2 separate regions of the Homo sapiens genome follow, and region 2 is linked to region 1. The links come from fine-mapping of genetic effects on gene expression. A gene starts in region 1. The other region holds a variant in brackets. All regions are shown on one strand. Distances are from middle to middle.

What was found. PIP is the estimated chance that this variant, and not a neighbour inherited with it, causes the effect.
Region 2: its variant is fine-mapped to the expression of CACNA1D in whole blood (TOPMed, PIP above 0.99).

What each region holds. Positions count from the first base shown.
Region 1 is chr3:53,489,974-53,498,348 of GRCh38, reverse strand. CACNA1D (calcium voltage-gated channel subunit alpha1 D) reads right to left here and starts at 3,738. Exons shown (of 48, transcript NM_001128840.3): 1 at 3,116-3,738; 2 at 888-1,197. The coding sequence starts at 3,182. RefSeq lists enhancers at 1,889-2,673, 2,674-3,459, 3,790-4,289.
Region 2 is chr3:53,697,767-53,706,141 of GRCh38, reverse strand. It overlaps CACNA1D (calcium voltage-gated channel subunit alpha1 D), which reads right to left. Exons shown (of 48, transcript NM_001128840.3): 9 at 3,332-3,501. Among named protein-coding and RNA genes, the nearest start is that of CHDH, 140 kb to the left of the region's middle. The variant T/C (reference allele first, on the strand shown) is at 4,403.

The DNA.
Region 1 (8,375 bases):
TTCCAAGATCTGGGACATGACAGCCATTCTGGGGCATTTGGAGTTCAATTTTAAAAATACAAAGGAGACACCCAGAAATGTACCTCCAGTCCAAGGACATAGACAGAATTTTTTATAAAGGCAGCAACTGCAAATTCCTCCACTGAAAAGGCTGTTCTATAACTCATAAGGGCCCAGGAGGAAGAGGCACACACGAGCCTCTCCCTTCACTGGCTCCCTCATGCTCACGTTCCAAATGCTTCTTTGGAACTTGTCAAAAGGAAATTCCAGGAAGTTATAGCACTGATCAGAGAAAAAAAATCAAAAGTAATCTCTCCCTAGGAAGCATGTGCTCATATCTGCAGCTACCTGAATAATTAGAATCACCAAATGTCAGACTAGAAGCAACCTTAGCATTAATTGTAGTTGCAGAAGCAAATTTCAAACATCAGAATGAGAAGATTCTACTAAAGGTCAAAAATGTATTCCCTTCAAACAGAGTCTTATACAGTCTTTTTTTCTAATCTGTATACCTTGTTTGCAATAGGTTCAATGCATGCTATTGCCCAAAGACAACACTGAATTTAAAACTAACCATCTAATGTCCAATAACCAAAGGTTGGTTTCACATTTTAATTATCTGCCCCTGTGAAGTTTCAGGCTGTCACTCCCTCCCCCTACTACTACTACTATACACACATCCAGACAGTGGGCTAAATATACCCGTACAGCCACCCCTCTGCAACCCGAAGAGACAGGAAGGTATATACAATGAAACCCCTTATATACAACTTCTGTTACTCGCATTCCAGACTGCTACAGCTTTGTGTCACTTCAGAAAGCAAATCCTTTTAAAAAACAGATGGTAAAAGAGAAAATGAGAAAGACTTCCCCCAAAAAAAGGATACTTCCATTCCACTATACTAATGCAGGCTCTTCGGATGGGGTTATTGAGTGATAAACAGAAAAGGGCGCGGGCAGGTCGGCTGTTGGACGAGTTACCCTGTTTTTTGCTCTTGGCGTATTGCTGACGTTTTCTTTGGGAGAGAGATCCTACAGGTGGGGGTGCAGAGGTGCTCATAGTTTGGGCAGCCTTGGCCTGTCTAGCAGCATCGATTGCAGCTTGCCAAGACAGGACAGTTTGCTTGGAGCTATTCGGCTGAGAAGTTGGTCCTTCACCAGAAAGAGGAAGTCTGGTGCCTCTTGCATAGTTTGCCTCTGGGGAGAAGGAGAAAAACAAAGATTTTTTTTTTTAAATGAGGATCCAGTGGGTAGGAGAAAAAAATCAAAGGTTGTCTCCCATCAATAACAGGGGAATCATTCACTCCTATGTTTCCATTTTGAATCTCATGTGCTATTTTTCACAAGCTGGGCTTTAGTCAGCTGGAGAGTCAAGAAAAGTCCACGAGCTCTGGTCTCAGTGTCAATCACACAGGATCACCGCTGCATCACACCCAGTGGGGTTAGTACTCCTTCACATCATGTCTTCACAAAGGGTCTTTTAGTGCATTTCTTCTGACAAAACTGAGGTCATTCCCACATTTACTCCGCATCTCTGATTTGTAAAACCCATCTATCTCTAATGAGTAACAGATACATACAACAGCTTTTCTCTAACATAACTACCACCATCACCAAGGGGAAAAAAAAAGGCAGTACCAATAATTCAATAGTCTTAATCATTTTCAGAGTGTTACTCCAACATCTTTCCACAGCCACAAATGCATTTTTTTCAGTACCGAAAAAAAATCTTCCATAGGCACCCAGGCAATACCAAAAACCCCATAACAAATATCTAGATTATGCACTGACACTTCCTGCAAATGAAAATTCATGATGCTTGGGACTCATTTCCTCCACAGGCTTCCGAAAACAGAAAACATCTTTAGGGCTTTTTTGCATTTTAAATTGCAGCAGCATCAGCCAAGCCAGCATCCAGAGAGACAGACAAGGCAGTCAGCCTGCACCCCTACACCTAGGATAGACTGACTGGATTATGCCAGGGGCCTCCAGGCCTAAGAGGGAATTATCTCCGTGTAGGTTGGTATCCAGGTGCACACAAGGCAGAAACTCAAGGAGGCTCCCTATGCGAAGCCCCCGCCAGCTTTGGGTCAGGCCATCTCCCAGGCAGATCTCCCAGGCACCTGCCGCCTTCCGCCACAGTCTCCTCACTGAAGCAGAAGTGAGAGAGGTGACAGCAAGGTAGAGAGATGGGCGTTTGCAAAGCCAATTATTGCTAAGTAAAGAGTCAAAGCAAGCACGGGTCTGAAAGCCTGAGAAGAGGGCAAAGCGGGCGAGCGGCGGGCAATCGGAGCGGGGACGAGTCGAGTCATGTCAAGCTTCTCCCTAGGGGAGCGCTCACCCGGAAAGGCTTCCAGCCGACAGGGGTTGGGGGGCACTGGCGGTCTCCAAAGGGGAGGGCTGGCCAGGAGCTGCTCCATCCTCCCTCGACCCAGCCCCGGCCGGCGTGGAAGCTGCACGTGGTGCCCGGGCCAGAGCTGGGGAGGGGAGCCCCACAGCGGCAGCGGCTCCCCGGGCATTGCTAGGTTACCGACGTGTGCACAGCCGGCGACGGGAGCGGGAACGCACGCTCCACCCGAACCCCTTTCCCCGATACCGAGGCCGGGCCTCCCCCGCGAGGGGATGGGTGTGCTTCACCCACCGGCGCGGAGGGCGAAACCGGGCAATCCTAGAATTTTCCGGATGCCACCAGGGACCTTCTTCCTAGTCAACGAGGGGGCGGGGGAGGAGTGGAAGGCGAGAAGAGGCTGGCAAGGGGGCTCCGGCTGAAGACTTGCGGCCCTCCTGCCATCGCTCGGGGGCGTTGAAGGAAAGTTGAGCCCGAGGACACTGAACCCGAATCACCCCGACTCGCCGCCCCTCCGGCTGCACCGCGCTCCACACACTCCACGGCCGCCCCCACCCCACAAATGCAGAATTAACTCTGACATTCAGGGCCTGGAGGGGAGCGCGGAGTGGCTGTCACGCATGTCCCCTCTCTGTGTAGACGACACCGAGCTGGCAGCACCCTCTCCAACCCCCTCAACCCATCCAGCGCCGCGGGGAAGGGGGAGGGGGCTGGAGGACCATGACAGGATCGGATTTGGCAGCGGGTGCCCGGGCTCTGGCTGCTCACCGTTCGCGTGGTCCGCTTGCTGCTGCCGTTGATGCTGCATTTTTTTCATCATCATCATCATCATCATCCACGAACATTTATTGAGCGACTACTGTGTGCAGGGCACTGTGCTGGGCGTTGAGGCGGGGGCGGAATGGGGAAGGGGATCACCAAGAGGTAGGAGCCGCGGTCCCTGCCCTTATTCTCGCTTCAGCAGGGGGGTGGGGAGGGACGGGGACAAATAACAGAAAATAAGGATAATTGATTTAAAAAAAAAACCGCTCGCCACCCAAGCTCTCTCTTTTTCAAAAATGGAGCAAAATAAACTTTTTAAAAAAATAAAATCCAATGTATATATTATCTTAATAATATATACATGTAATTTTTTGCTGCAAAGGAGAACTGGCTTGTCCCCTCCTCTAGCGGAGAGACGCCGCGGTGATGCCGGCCCGGCCGCCGGGGCCGCTCGGCGCTCCCCCCATGCCCGCCCGTCTGCCCGCCCGCCGCGGTGCCCGGTGCCCGCCGCCGCCGCCCGCGCCGCCGCTGGCTCGGGACCGCGGGCAGCCGGAGCTCACATCCGGGGACGGAGGCGCTCGCCCGCCCGCTCGCTCCGCGCCCGCCGCGCCGCGCCGCACGCCGGCTTCGCCCTGGCGACGCTGCGCGCCCGCCGCCGTCCCCCGCCCTCCGCCCGCCCCGAGCCGCCCACGGCCCGCGCCGCGCCGCGCCCCGGCGGGTCTGCAGCCCGGCGCGCGGTTCTGCCCGGCACCACTTGCGCGCTCGGGGTGGCCGTCGCGTGGGACTCGGGGTGCCGCCACCCCAGCCTGGCCCGGCTGACCTGCGGGCTCCAAAGGGTTAAGCGCGCTCCAGCGGCGGGCTGCCCGGTTAACCCCCTCCGCGCCGCACGGTGCGCTCTCCCCCCGGGACCCGGAGGAGGCAGGCGGCGCCAGTGTCTCCCGCGGCGCTGGGGTGCGGATGAACCGCTCCTCCCCGCGCATTTCTGGGCTGGGGGACAGCTCGGGCTCCCGCGCCGGCCCCGACTCCGCGCCGGCCTCCTCTGCGCACACCTGGAGGAGGCCCCGCCCCCTGGGAGCTCAGGTGCTAGCGGGCGGTAGCTGCTGCGGTCTCCGAGCTCATCCTCGTCAAGGCTCGGCCGGGCTCCCTGGCTGCTCCGGAGCGGGGCAGGCGCCCCCTGCTTTTCTCCGGCCCTTTCTGGAATCGGGGGGGTTGGGGTAGCCCGGGTCTGTAGAGAGCACTCACTACCCCAGGTAACTGCCTGCAGCTGGAACCGCGAATCCAGGGCGCCCCCCATCTTCTCCCCTGCCCTGCGCCTGGCCTGGCGTCGCGGAAGGCAACGGGGATGGGGGGCAATATCTCCCCCCACCCCACCCCGCCCCCACGTGTGTTTGGAGGCAGGTACAGGGAAGTCAAAGCCAAGGTCTTTCAAACCGCTCGTGTTGTTCAAGGAAATAGACGGTGCTGCTGAAACTGTTGCCTCCAGTCTGGGAGCTGAAGGGAGTAGTTTATTTTTTGATACCTTCGCTGGCTTGGATTTAGGGTGGGGGAGATTTGCAAACGGCAGCTCCTGTCTAAAGGGGAAAATACTTTATCTAGTGGATGACTGATATTTTTCATTTAGCTTTGTGCTGCCTGTTAGGAGAAGGGCGTCTGCTTTGTTACTTCACAGGATTCGATTTATTTGCTTTTGTTCCTATCTGCATGTTCCTACGGCGTTTTAGAACGTTTCAGAACAGTGACTTTAAAGCGAAAATAAAGTAAAAGCTCAGCGTGAATTAAGAAAAATAAGTGTTTATGGGAAGGTGCTCCTTACCCAAAGAGAACACACTAGTCATCCTCAATTGTTGGGGGGCACCTGGGCAGAGAGACTGGGGACCAGACAGAAGACTCTCCAGAGGCCTTCCTGAGGGGGTGTCTGGTCCGTGAGGATGAAAACAACCAGGCTCTTGTCCTTTTTTGTGCTTTGTTTTTGGAGACTGGAGAGGCGAGAAATCGCCCTACGGTCTAGTAACAATATAAAGCTGGCCTGGGCCACCTCTCCTATGGCTGCTTCTGATCCAAAATCTGAAGGGAATAGAAGACGGTTCCCTCCAAAGAAACTAGCCCATCCAAGGAGCATGTATGAAATTCACAAGTACACATGTCACTTTCAGAACTCCTGGTCTAAAGCCTTGCCTCTTGAGGCCTTTTCTACAAAATTCCCTGAGCAAGTTTGTTTTATGATACCTTTGCTGGCTCAGATTTGGAATGGGGGAGATTTGCAAACAGCAGCTCCTGTCTAGAGGGAAAAATACTGTATCTAGTGGATGACTGAGCCGAACCATATTTGCTCATTGTTCAGTTCAGTGCAGCCAGCATTCATAAGGCACCGGTTAAGAATAAGGGTCTGGTCTAGATGTCAGGACAAATCTATGGCACAGTTCCTTCCTCAAGGACAACCTAATGACAGAAGAAAAGTTTGTATACTTTTTTTTTTTTTGAGACGGAGTCTTGCTCACTCTGTTGTCCAGGCTGGAATGCAGTGATGCAGTTTCAGCTCACTGTAACCTCTGCCTGTTGAGTTCAAGAGAGATTCTCCTGCCTCAGCCTCCTGAATAGGTGGGACTACAGGCGCGCGCCACCACCCTCAGGTAATTTTTGTATTTTTAGTAGAGACGGGGTTTCACCGTGTTGGCCAGGCTGGTCTCAAACTCCTGACCTCAGGTGATACACCTGCCTCGGCCTCCCAAAGTGCTGGGATTACAGCCGTGAGCCACCGCGCGCCCGGCCGTGTATACTTCTTTCATACCATGCAAACATAGCAGCTATAACAAGTATGAAAAAGCGCTATACAAGCATCAGACAGATTAATTGTAACTGAGGGAACTGAGATGTTTTCACAGAAGAGAGGGCATTTGAACTGATTCTTAAAAACTGACCGGGAGAAAGAGGGATGAATAGGTGGCATACAGGGAATTCTAGGGCAGTGAAGCTATTCTTTATGATACTGCCATGATGGACGTAGGACATTATGCGTTTGTCAAAAACCCGTTGGACTGTACACCACAAAGCATAAACCCTAATGCAAACTATAGACTTTTGTTAATAGTAGTACCACAATATTGGTTCATCAATTATAACACTGGGGTGTACCAGTGTTATAACTGTGTATATAGTGTAGCTCACTAATGCAAGATGTTAATAGGAGAAACTGTTGGGGGAGAGAATATATGGGAATTCTGTCCTTGCTGCAAAATTTTTCTGTAAACCTAAAACTGCTCTTAAAAAAAATAAAGTCTATTAAAAACAGGTGACTACTTTTACAGGGCATAAATGATGTATGAGGAATGAGCTTTGGGGGTAAGAGCAAAGGCACAGGGGAGACTGAAGTGCAAGGTGGGTGTGTTTAAAAATGAGCAGGAGCACAGTGTGGCTGAGGCAAAGACCCCCTGGGCTAGAGGAGGAGGAGGCTGGAAAGGCCAACCCAAATCTGTGGAGGAAGGCTGGCTGGCTAAGAAGACCAGATTCAATTTCTTGGCAGTGAGAGCCAGTGAAGTTGTTTTAGCTCAAAAGTGACATGATTAAATTGTGGTTTCGGTCTCCAGGTTTTGTGCGTTAGATCTTAACAAGTTTATGGTATTGCAGGAGGGTTTGGGGTTTTTTTTTTAAATAATTATTTTTAGAAACAGGGTCTCACTATGTTGCCCAGATTGGAGTGCAGTGGTGTGATCATAGTTCACTGTAAGCTGCAAGCCCTGGCTTCAAGCAGTTCTGCCTCAGCCTCCCAGCGTGCTGGGATTACGGGCATGAGCCACTGCTCAGCCTTGAATTGGAGTTTTTGACATTCCATCCCAGTTTCTGAATGAGTCTCATCTTGGCGATGTCTCCAGCAAGCATTTTTTTTTTTTGAGGGCCTTGATTCAGCACAGCTCTAGATGCGTTGGCCCATTGGGTAATTTAAATATTTATATTCCCATGATAATGCAAACTACTGAATAAATAAATAATAAGATCTTTTAAAGGCTTCCTGTGTGCCAGGTTCTAGGGTAGGCACTTTATATGTACTAACTCATTTAATTCTCGTAACAAGCCTACGAGGTACTATAAAACCCTCATTTTGGCCAGGCTCAGTGGCTCATGCCTATAATCCCAGCACTTTGGAAGGCCAAGGCGGGCTTGAGTCCATGAATTTGAGACCAGCCTGGCCAACATGGTGAAACCCCATCTCTACTAAAATTACAAAAATTAGCTGGGGATGGTGGCGTGCGCCTTAAGTCCCAGCTACGTGGGTGGCTGAGGCAGAAGAATCACTTCAACCTGGGAGGTGGAGGTTGCAGTGAGCAGAGATTGTGCCACTGCACTCCAGCTTGGGCAACGGAGCAAAACTCTAAAAAAAAAAAAAAACAAAACTCATTTTACAGACAACAAAACCAAGACACTGAGGAGTTAAGTAGCTCGCCCAAAACCACACACAATTACTTAGTAGCTGAGCCAACAAGACATGAGGAAAGGCTAAAACAAAAGATTTCAGCTCTAAATCAGCTACATGTGCTACAACCCAATTATGTTGCTAACACACTATTGTGGGGTCTTAATCTCCATGACCTTATTTATAAAGCACTCCCACTTGAACGCACTGAGCTGGCATGCCAGACATGATTACCTGCGTGCACTGCATTTCAAAAAACCTTGCTGATGGCCCAGTCCAGAACCTCACCATCTCACACCCCAGGTCATGCACAAGATGCCCATTCTCCATTTTTCCTCCCACAAATAATCCATCTTGTTCAAAACACACCATGTCACTTCCCTGACCAAAAAATGTTTTCTTCCTCCTTCCTTCCACATTCAACCTAAACTCCTCTGACTAGCGTTCAACCTTATCATCTCGCACCATTCACTTTAAACTGTGGTCAGCAGTCTCATTAGACTGTGAACATGCTGTGCTCATTTCTGACTCTCTGCTTTGGCTCCTGTTTATTCGCTGACCAGGAATCCCTACCTTGTTGACTTGCTGACCTCTCACTAACCCCTCTCCATTGAAAAAGCCTCGGTCAAGTCTCTGCCTCCTCCAGAAGACTTCTCTGATTGCTACTGCTGCTATGGACACTCGTGTGCCCCCACCCCCACCTCCCCTTCCCTAAAGGCCTGCAGCACCTGGCTTCCCCTTTGATGACATACATTCTTGTGTCTTGTGTGATTGCTTCTTGGCTATAAATCCTGTCTCTCCAACCACCGTGTGGGTCCTTAAGCAAGGATCACCTCCTTAACCCCCTCTCCCTGCTGC
Region 2 (8,375 bases), 210 kb before region 1:
AAGTCAGGAGCCCGGGCCCTGCGCCATCCTCCTCTCAAGAGGTAACAGAGGAGCAGGGTTGGAGTGGAAGGCACGTGGGGTGATCTCACACCCCCAGGGAGGATGCAGACACCGTAACACTGGCAACACCCACATTTCTACTGCCTGCTAATCAGATGCACAGAGACAGCCCCAGACCTGGCATGTGCATGTGGTGAATCCAGGACTGTTTATTTGGTGAGGAGGACCATGTGGGCCTCACTGAAACCCTCTCCTTGTGTGGTTTTCTGGCTGTGACAGGAAGAAAATGGCTGGCAGCCACAGGAGGCCCCAGGGAAACCTCAACAGTGCTGTCTCCTCCAGAGGGTCTGGGCTGCTGAGGTCTGTGATCAGAGAGGTTCTCTCCTCAGAGGAGGAGGAGACTTGGTGCTCTCAAGTCAGCTAAATCCCATCATGGCCTCCACAGCCAAGATTTCTGTCTTTATTTAAAACCCTCATCAGCAAGGCTCTGGAAATCTGATGACTCGGGAAGCACTGTGAGCCTCACTCCACAGGAAACCCCAGCACCTGGCAAAACGAGCTCCATAAAGAACAAGGGCGCACCACAGAAATATTTGCTATTCTGGATCAAACGTTAAGCTAGTTAATCATTTTGAGTCACACATCACGGTGCATAGCAGAAACAATACTGCTGATGTTCCCAAGACACATTGCAGCTTTATGGGCTTGGGAGCCCCAGTGAGAGTGAATTCTGAAGATCTACAAGGCTTTTAAACAGGTTTTGTTTCTTTCCTAGATTATATTACTGAGCAATGCACTTAAGGGCCCTGAATATTTGTCACTTCGCACACCTTGTTTGTGCCATTTCCCCAGCTTGAAAAAGCCCCCACCCCCAACCTCTGCCGCCCAGGGCTGCTCCTCCCACGGAGCCTTCCTCACATCGCCCCAGCCTGCCCACTCCCACCAGCCAGAATCATCGCGCCCTCCTGGGCTCACACAGCAGAGTGCTGGGCCTTAACAATGGGATCAGCTTCTCACACTAAGCCACTCCTTCTCCATCTTCCCCTCATGGCAAGTTCTCTGAAAGGCAGAGTCATTGATTTCTGTCATCATCAGGTTTTTACAGTGATAGGTCATAGGAAATGCTGGGCTGAGATAAAATGGTTAACCCTCAAGATATCACCTTAAATCCAATGAAAACCCTTAATCCTCAAATCATAGGCCCTATAAACAACTCTACCACGACTAATGTTAGCAACACTAGAACACGAAACCTTGTCTACTTCTAGAGGAGGAGAAATAAACAGAGGAAAGGCCACTGGCCTGTAAGAAGGCCTCACTCAGCTCCCTGGGGGACACAGCTAAACTAGCAAAGAAAGACACTCTGCTGAGAAAAAGGGGCCATACCTCCTCTCGTTTACAAATAACATGTTGGGTTTAGGGGAGATGGGGCAGGTCAGCATCTGAGTTACAGTTTGCAAGTGAAGGGGAAAAGAGCGGTGCAGGCATCTCCAAGCTGCACCTACATGGCCTGTTGCCATACTGCAGGTGCAGAAGCTCCACGAAAGCCATGGGGTTCACGTTGGCTCAACTGCCAAGGGGAGAGCTGTGCAGAGGACAGGCAGACACTCTTACATCTGATCACTTCATAGGCACATCGCTGAGTCTGAGACTCACATGAATGTCTATTTATAAACTCTGAACTTGCATTCAGCAAACAGTTAGCTCTAGAAACCCTCCCTCAGTCTTCTGATCCTCAGGTGCTAAAGTCCTGGCCCCTTCCTGAGCCTGGCAAGAAGCAGGGAGGGAGAGAAGAGAGGCCTGACCCTGCCCACTCCCAGTCAGCACACTGGTTTGCACCAGCCAGGGCATCTGAGATCACGGAACACACTCCCTCCCCATGGAGGCACAGAGCCCAGGCTTGAAGAAAGGTAAGGGCCCTCTCAGTCAAGAAGCCTCTCCACCAGGGGTCTCTCAGCCCCCACTTACACACTCCACAACCTCCAGAAGAGGCACAATTGCACCTCACCCACCCTTCCTATGGCAGCTCACCCCGACCTTCATACCCTCTGTGCTCCAGCTGAAGGGCCCACTGCTTCCTCCCTGAAACCTGGCCTTTGTCCACCTCCACGCCTCCCTCACGCTAGTCCCCTGGGTCAGGGTGCTTCTTCTGACACTGAATGGTCACACCTGCAATCCATCCATCCTTCAGGGCCCAGGCCAAATGCTCCCTCCAGCCCTGTCCTCGATCCCTCGTCGGCGGTGCCTGCCCTCTATGTGTGCCCTGCAGCTCTGCTCCCCAGGGCTGCATTTAGTGTGACAGGCCTGTCTCTCCCTAGGAGGCAGCACTCCACATCCTCTCCAGCTCTGGGTTTCCCCTGTACCCAGCAACAGGCCTTGCTGAGAGCAAAACATCCAAGGCGCTCTGCTCAAGCAGGGACTTGCTCGGCCATCTTCTACAACGTAGGGCCGGCCTCGGGTCCCCAGGCCTCTCAATGGACATGTGCACTTGAAGTACGTTCTTGGTCCTTCCTATCCAACTCTTCTAGATTTGAAGCAAGTCACAGACATCTCAGTCAAATGCATTGCTGGATTCCAGTTTCCACTCTGACCCGAGGCACAAAGGGCCCCAGAGAGAATAAGAGCGCATCTGTGGGAAAAGTATGCAGTGAAAGAGACACCGTGGTTGACAATGGCAATTAATGTCAGTGATGGACTGAGTTCTCAGGCCTTGCCTCCTGCAGAAGGTGCTCTAGGGTGCTTAGTGTCACAGTGTGGGGTGTCGATGGGTGACAGCAAAGCAGCTGTCACTGACTCACGTGCCCCTTAACACCTGCCTAGAATGGTGAGCCGGTTTCCTCCCAGCCCCTGATGGGCTAAGCATATGGCTTCATATGAATAGCACATGTAGGAGCCATGTCAGGTGGCCTAAGAGTAAGAGTCAAGAGGAACCCTGCACTTCAAATTCTTGTCCAATAACACTGTTCACTCTGAGGTGAGGGAAACCACAGCTTCTTCTCCTGTGGTACAAGAATATGTGTCTCATCACCCCTGTGCCCGCACAGAAATGCGCTTACTGAATTTCCCAGGCCAACAGTGGGTCCGTTTGACCTTCCTTGGCTATAAAGCCACCTTACCAAATACAACTCTAAACCCCAAACCTCAGGCAGAAATCCAGAGTCAGCACCAATGCACCTGTTCTCTCCGTGATGTGTGCAGGCAGAAGGGACCAGATGGCTGGGAGGAGGCTGTCCCACTCACAGCCTGGGTCAGAGTCGAGGAAGGCCTACTGCTAGGCGTCTGAACCGCACACTGGGTCTGTCTAGCCAGGGGCAGGAAAGGCGCTACATACTATTTCGTTTGCCTTCCTCTCCTCCTTCTTCCTCATTCTCCGGATCGATGTCCTCAGCTTGGGTGATCCAATCCAAGTAGCCCTTTAGATCCTCCTCCAGCTGCTGCTTCTCCCGGAGCTTCTGGAAATCTCCCCGTGCTTTTGCCTTCTCTCTTTCCTTTGAGAATTCTCTGAAGGAGGCAAAGAGGACAAGCACATATCAGGACATCCTTGGGGACCTGCATCCTGAGCCACTGCCCTACTGCACAACAGTCTTGTGGGCAGGACACACAGCACTGAGTATAGTCACATGAGCACAGCAATGGAGCCACACACTTGGACAGGACAGAAGACAGTGTCTTCCAAAGCAAGACTATGGGGGTCAGAGTCGCAGAGCCCACACCAACACACATGCATCATTTCTTAGAAAATGAACTCCCCTCGATGACAGCGATCTCAAGGGGCCTAGGCCCAAAACACCATGTGCTGTCATGGCAGGCCTCTGACACCCCCCAACAAGGGGCCTGAACTCAGAGACGCCCCACTTTCCCCAGAGCCTCCTCAAAGAGGAGGGACCCAAATGGGCCAAGCTGTGGTCAAAGAGTACCAAGTTTAGAACTTCTTCAATGCTTTTGGACAAACTTTGCATTAATATTGTGTGCTACCCCTTTTGTCCAAACCAAGAGCTCTGAGCAGGCAGCAGTCCTTGCTGGTGCCCACACTAGGCTCCTCTACCCATCACCTGCAGGTTCGGGCCAGAGCAGTGCATGGAGTCAGGGCAGTCCCCACCCCCTCCACAACCCAGTTCTCCCTTCCCAGATGGGAACTCGAGCACTGATGAAGCATTACTGTTTTTCTTAACCCCTGCTACTTGTCATGGTCTTCCCCAAAAGTCTTCCCTGCAGGAGGGGAAGAGGCATATGATTTTCTGCCCATTTATAGGAACACCTGCCCTGGAAAAGATCTGGCAGACAGGTAAATGTTCCCAATTGTGGGGTGTTTATGCTACTTTCCACCATGTGTGCAAGCCTCTGACTATGCATATATACAAAACCCCACATACTCAGGCAAGCCTGAGAGTCAGGTGGACGA[T/C]TACCCAATTTTTATATATGAGGAACCATCTGCATCTCCAACCGTGAGTTGTTATAGGAGCCAAGATATGTGAGTTAGAGACTTAGTAAAAAGCTGCCAAGGAAGCAGGTGAGGTTACAGCAATGCAGTTTCTGCACACAGACCTTGAGATTCTGACACAGGTTACTTCTGTCTGCCTTCTTGCCTTTGTTCCGAGTCAAAGCCAGCATGTCTCTTTCAGGGTCCTACCTCGATAAGCCAACCCAACCCAACTCAACCCAACCCAACCCACGAATGGGGAAGTGACCTGCTTTCATAAAGCTAACCCCAGCCAGGCACGGTGGCTCACGCCTGTAATCCCAGCACTTTGGGAAGCCAAGGTGGGTGGATCATGAGGTCAGGAGTTTGAGACCAGCCTGGTCAACATGGTGAAACCCCATCTCTACTAAAATAAAAAGAATTAGCTGGGCATGGTGGTGCAGTCCCAGTTACTCAGGAGGCTGAGGCAAGAGAATTGCTTGAACCTGGGAGGCAGAGGTTGCAGTGAGCCAAGTTCATGCCACTGCATTCCAGCCTGGGCAACAGAGCAAGACGCTGTCTCCAAAATAATAATAATAATAATAACAACAACAACAAAACTAACCCCATATTCACACCCGTCTCTTAACTCTAGGCTGTCGAGGGGCTGAACAGATGCTTGCACACCCAGTGACACTAATACTTCAGATAAGAAACTGGAATCCTCACCAAGTGCCACCCTCTGCCCACAATTAGAAAGAATCCCACTCAGACAGAGGTTGCGGCGGGCTGAGATTGCACCATTGCACTCCAGCCTGGGCAACGGAGCAAGACTCCATCTCAAAAAAAATAAAAATAAAAATAAAAAAGAAAGAAAGAAAGGAAAAAAAAAAGAAAAGAAAAAGAAAGGATCCCTCTCATAGCTTCTAAATCACCCCACTTTCCAGACTCCCTGGAACCTATCCTTGGTCCTGTTAGGGCTGTCAGTCTCCACTCCACCCCCTGTGAATAAGGAAGGAGGCCAGGCTTTGTGGATCTAGAGAGTGAGCAGGAGCCGATCTGAGCCCAGACACGTGCTCTGACCTCCCAGCCCAAAGAACACCTGCTGTCTCAAAGAAGTAAGGACTCCAGTGTCTCGCCATTCACATGTACCACACCCTGAGAATGGTTTGGGGTTTCTAGGCCTCCGGGGTTTCCTGACACATGGGAAATACATAACTCAGCTCTAGGTAAATTCACCAAATGATTCTCTGAACTCTGAAAAAATCACAACTCAATCCAGAATCACATCCCTGAGCAACAGTAAGAGGGCTTGGCATGTCATGTATCTGCAGGAAAATGAATTATATAATCTGTTTTCTTAAATACATCTCAAAGAAAAGTGGACCTTCAGTTCTATTATTCACCAGAAAAGTATCCTAGTACAAATCTGTTTGCATGTTTTGATTCCGAACTTAGAATACTAAATTCAGATGGTTACATACAAACAAGGTATTCTTACTTTGGGTCCATATCATATATGGGTTCTTGGGAAAAAAATTATGAAGATAGTAAAAGAGTTACCCTGAGAAGCTTAAGGACATTCATTTTATAATGCATAATTACATACATTATATACATTTTATAATGTATTATAATTATATAATTATATTTTATTTTTAAATTATATAATTATATACATTTTATAATGTATAATTACATACATTATAAAATGAACGTCCTTAAGCTTCTCAGGGTAACTCTTTTACTATCTTCCTAATTTTCTTTTGTAATATTTTATGCCTTTTTAACATTACAAATATAAAAATCCCATTTCTAACAAGCTGCATCACTGTTGTACATTTTCCACTGCTGGGACACAGGTAAGCAGGCATAAGTAAAACTCTACTCTGACTAAAATTCCTAGGAGTAAAAAACCCTGCCAAGTCCTGGTTTATGGCCCACTCACAATGATGGTCACTATCACAAAAGCTCATATAACAAAGCTGCTGATATAGACCCTCTGAACTGATTTTAGACAGTTCTGAATGGCTGAATATTTAGCAGGAAGGTATTATTTATTGATGTGGACAGAGGTGAGGTTTATACAGTAGAAATCTGTTGGCCACAGGGCAGGATGGAGGAAGGGGGCAGGGAGGTAGAGTCCCTGTGATAAACCCAGATAAATCCTTGGCCCTCCTACACCACTCTGGGCTCTTCGTCTGAAGACCTGGCTTCTAGTCCTAGCTCTGTCACTGCTGTGTTCTGAGCTTCAGTTTCCTCACTTCCAAACAGACACAACAATACCTGTTCCGCTGTTTCACAGGAATTAAGCAAGACATTCAGTAAGGCTTTGAAAACACAAAGAGTGGTATCAACGTGAAGTTCAAATGTATAATAGTTGTTGAATCCAGACATAAGAGAGACATTCAAAAGGCAAATGGAAGAGCTTTCTCAAATTATCAAAGGGAGAAAAATTAGCACTAGCTGTGAATGGGCTCTAAGCTGCCACAAACCCGTTAGGATTGGGAGACACATAGAAGGACACATGGGTCCCAAGGCTCAGAGTGATCGCAATGAGCTGGCAAACCCACTGCCAATCCTGTACACTATCTGCTCAGTTGAGAATAACCCATTCCCATCACAACTGACCCTCTGATCCTGAAAATCACACCTCAAGTCCGAGGCACCTTCTATCAAACTTTGCAATGATGGGAAAAAAGTTACTCCACTTTGCATAAGAATTCATCATATTCTAAGAATCCTATTACTAAGAGATTGTTTTACAAAGCTTATTTAATAAAGCTATTGGTAGAAACCAACAGACTTTTGCAAGTGACTAAAAATCCAACAACTGTTATATGCTAGGAGTCTTCTTGTTCCAAACCAGAATTTTGGTTATGGTGTGTCTGATCAAAAGATAAATAAGAAGTGCCTGGATGAAAAAAAAAAAAAAAGCAATAAAGTGTGCTACCCTTTACACACGAAAAACTGGGAAATAAAAGGAGCATATTTCTCTCAGGTGTATCTAAAAGAAAGAGCAGAAAACAAGGGATGGGAATGAATTAGGCCAAAGGAATCAAGGTTGGAGTGACACTCTTAAGTATACCTTTTTCTATAGTTTTGACTTTGGGAACCATGTTAATGTTCTTCACCTTAAATTTTTAAAAATTAAGTCAGTAAGGATGAGATGAAGGGAAAATACCCCTAAACTGAAAGTGATTTGAAACAAACAAATCTGTAATTCAAATGAATACCATAACCAGACTGAAGGAGAAAGACAAAACTAATTCAAATAGCTCATGAATATTTGACGACATACTCTCAGTCTTGGGTAGGATTGGAGTGAGGGATGAACTACAAACAAATGCTGAACTCTTTTCAGTAGCTTTGTTTTTTGCAGTGATGTGGATGAGACCATTCTGAAACTATCTTAGACATATTACAGGATTTAGCCAGTGAGTACATGTGCTAATGCTGCTGGGAGCCAGAGTTCTCGCTGTGGAAGGAGGGACACAGAAACACGGAACAGAGAAGAACCCTCTGGGGACAGGCTGGAATTGAAGGTATAGGTGTGAACTGATGATTTCTAAAAGATGTTTATTTTAAAGTCTGATTTCCAATGTCTGATTTTTAAAAGAGGCTGATATGTGAGTATGTGTATGTATCAATGTAAGTATGTGTATGAATATGTGTACGGAAATGCATATATTTCCTAGGTCTGCCTGTTGAAAGGACTTAGAAGCAAAGATGCTCTGGCAGGTACAAGCACACCTGGTACCCACATCTTGGTCTCTAATAACATTCCCCATTAAAAGGAACCAGGGGACTTTGGAGAACTGGGTGATTCCAGGGCAAGGGTAGGGTAGGTACAAGATGAAGAAAATAAGGAAGTGCTCAAAAAACAAAAACAAACCAAAACACATTATGGAGATATGTCATAAGGATACAGGAGCTAGAGAAGTAGCTCCTACTAGCCAAATCTTAGGAAATTTGA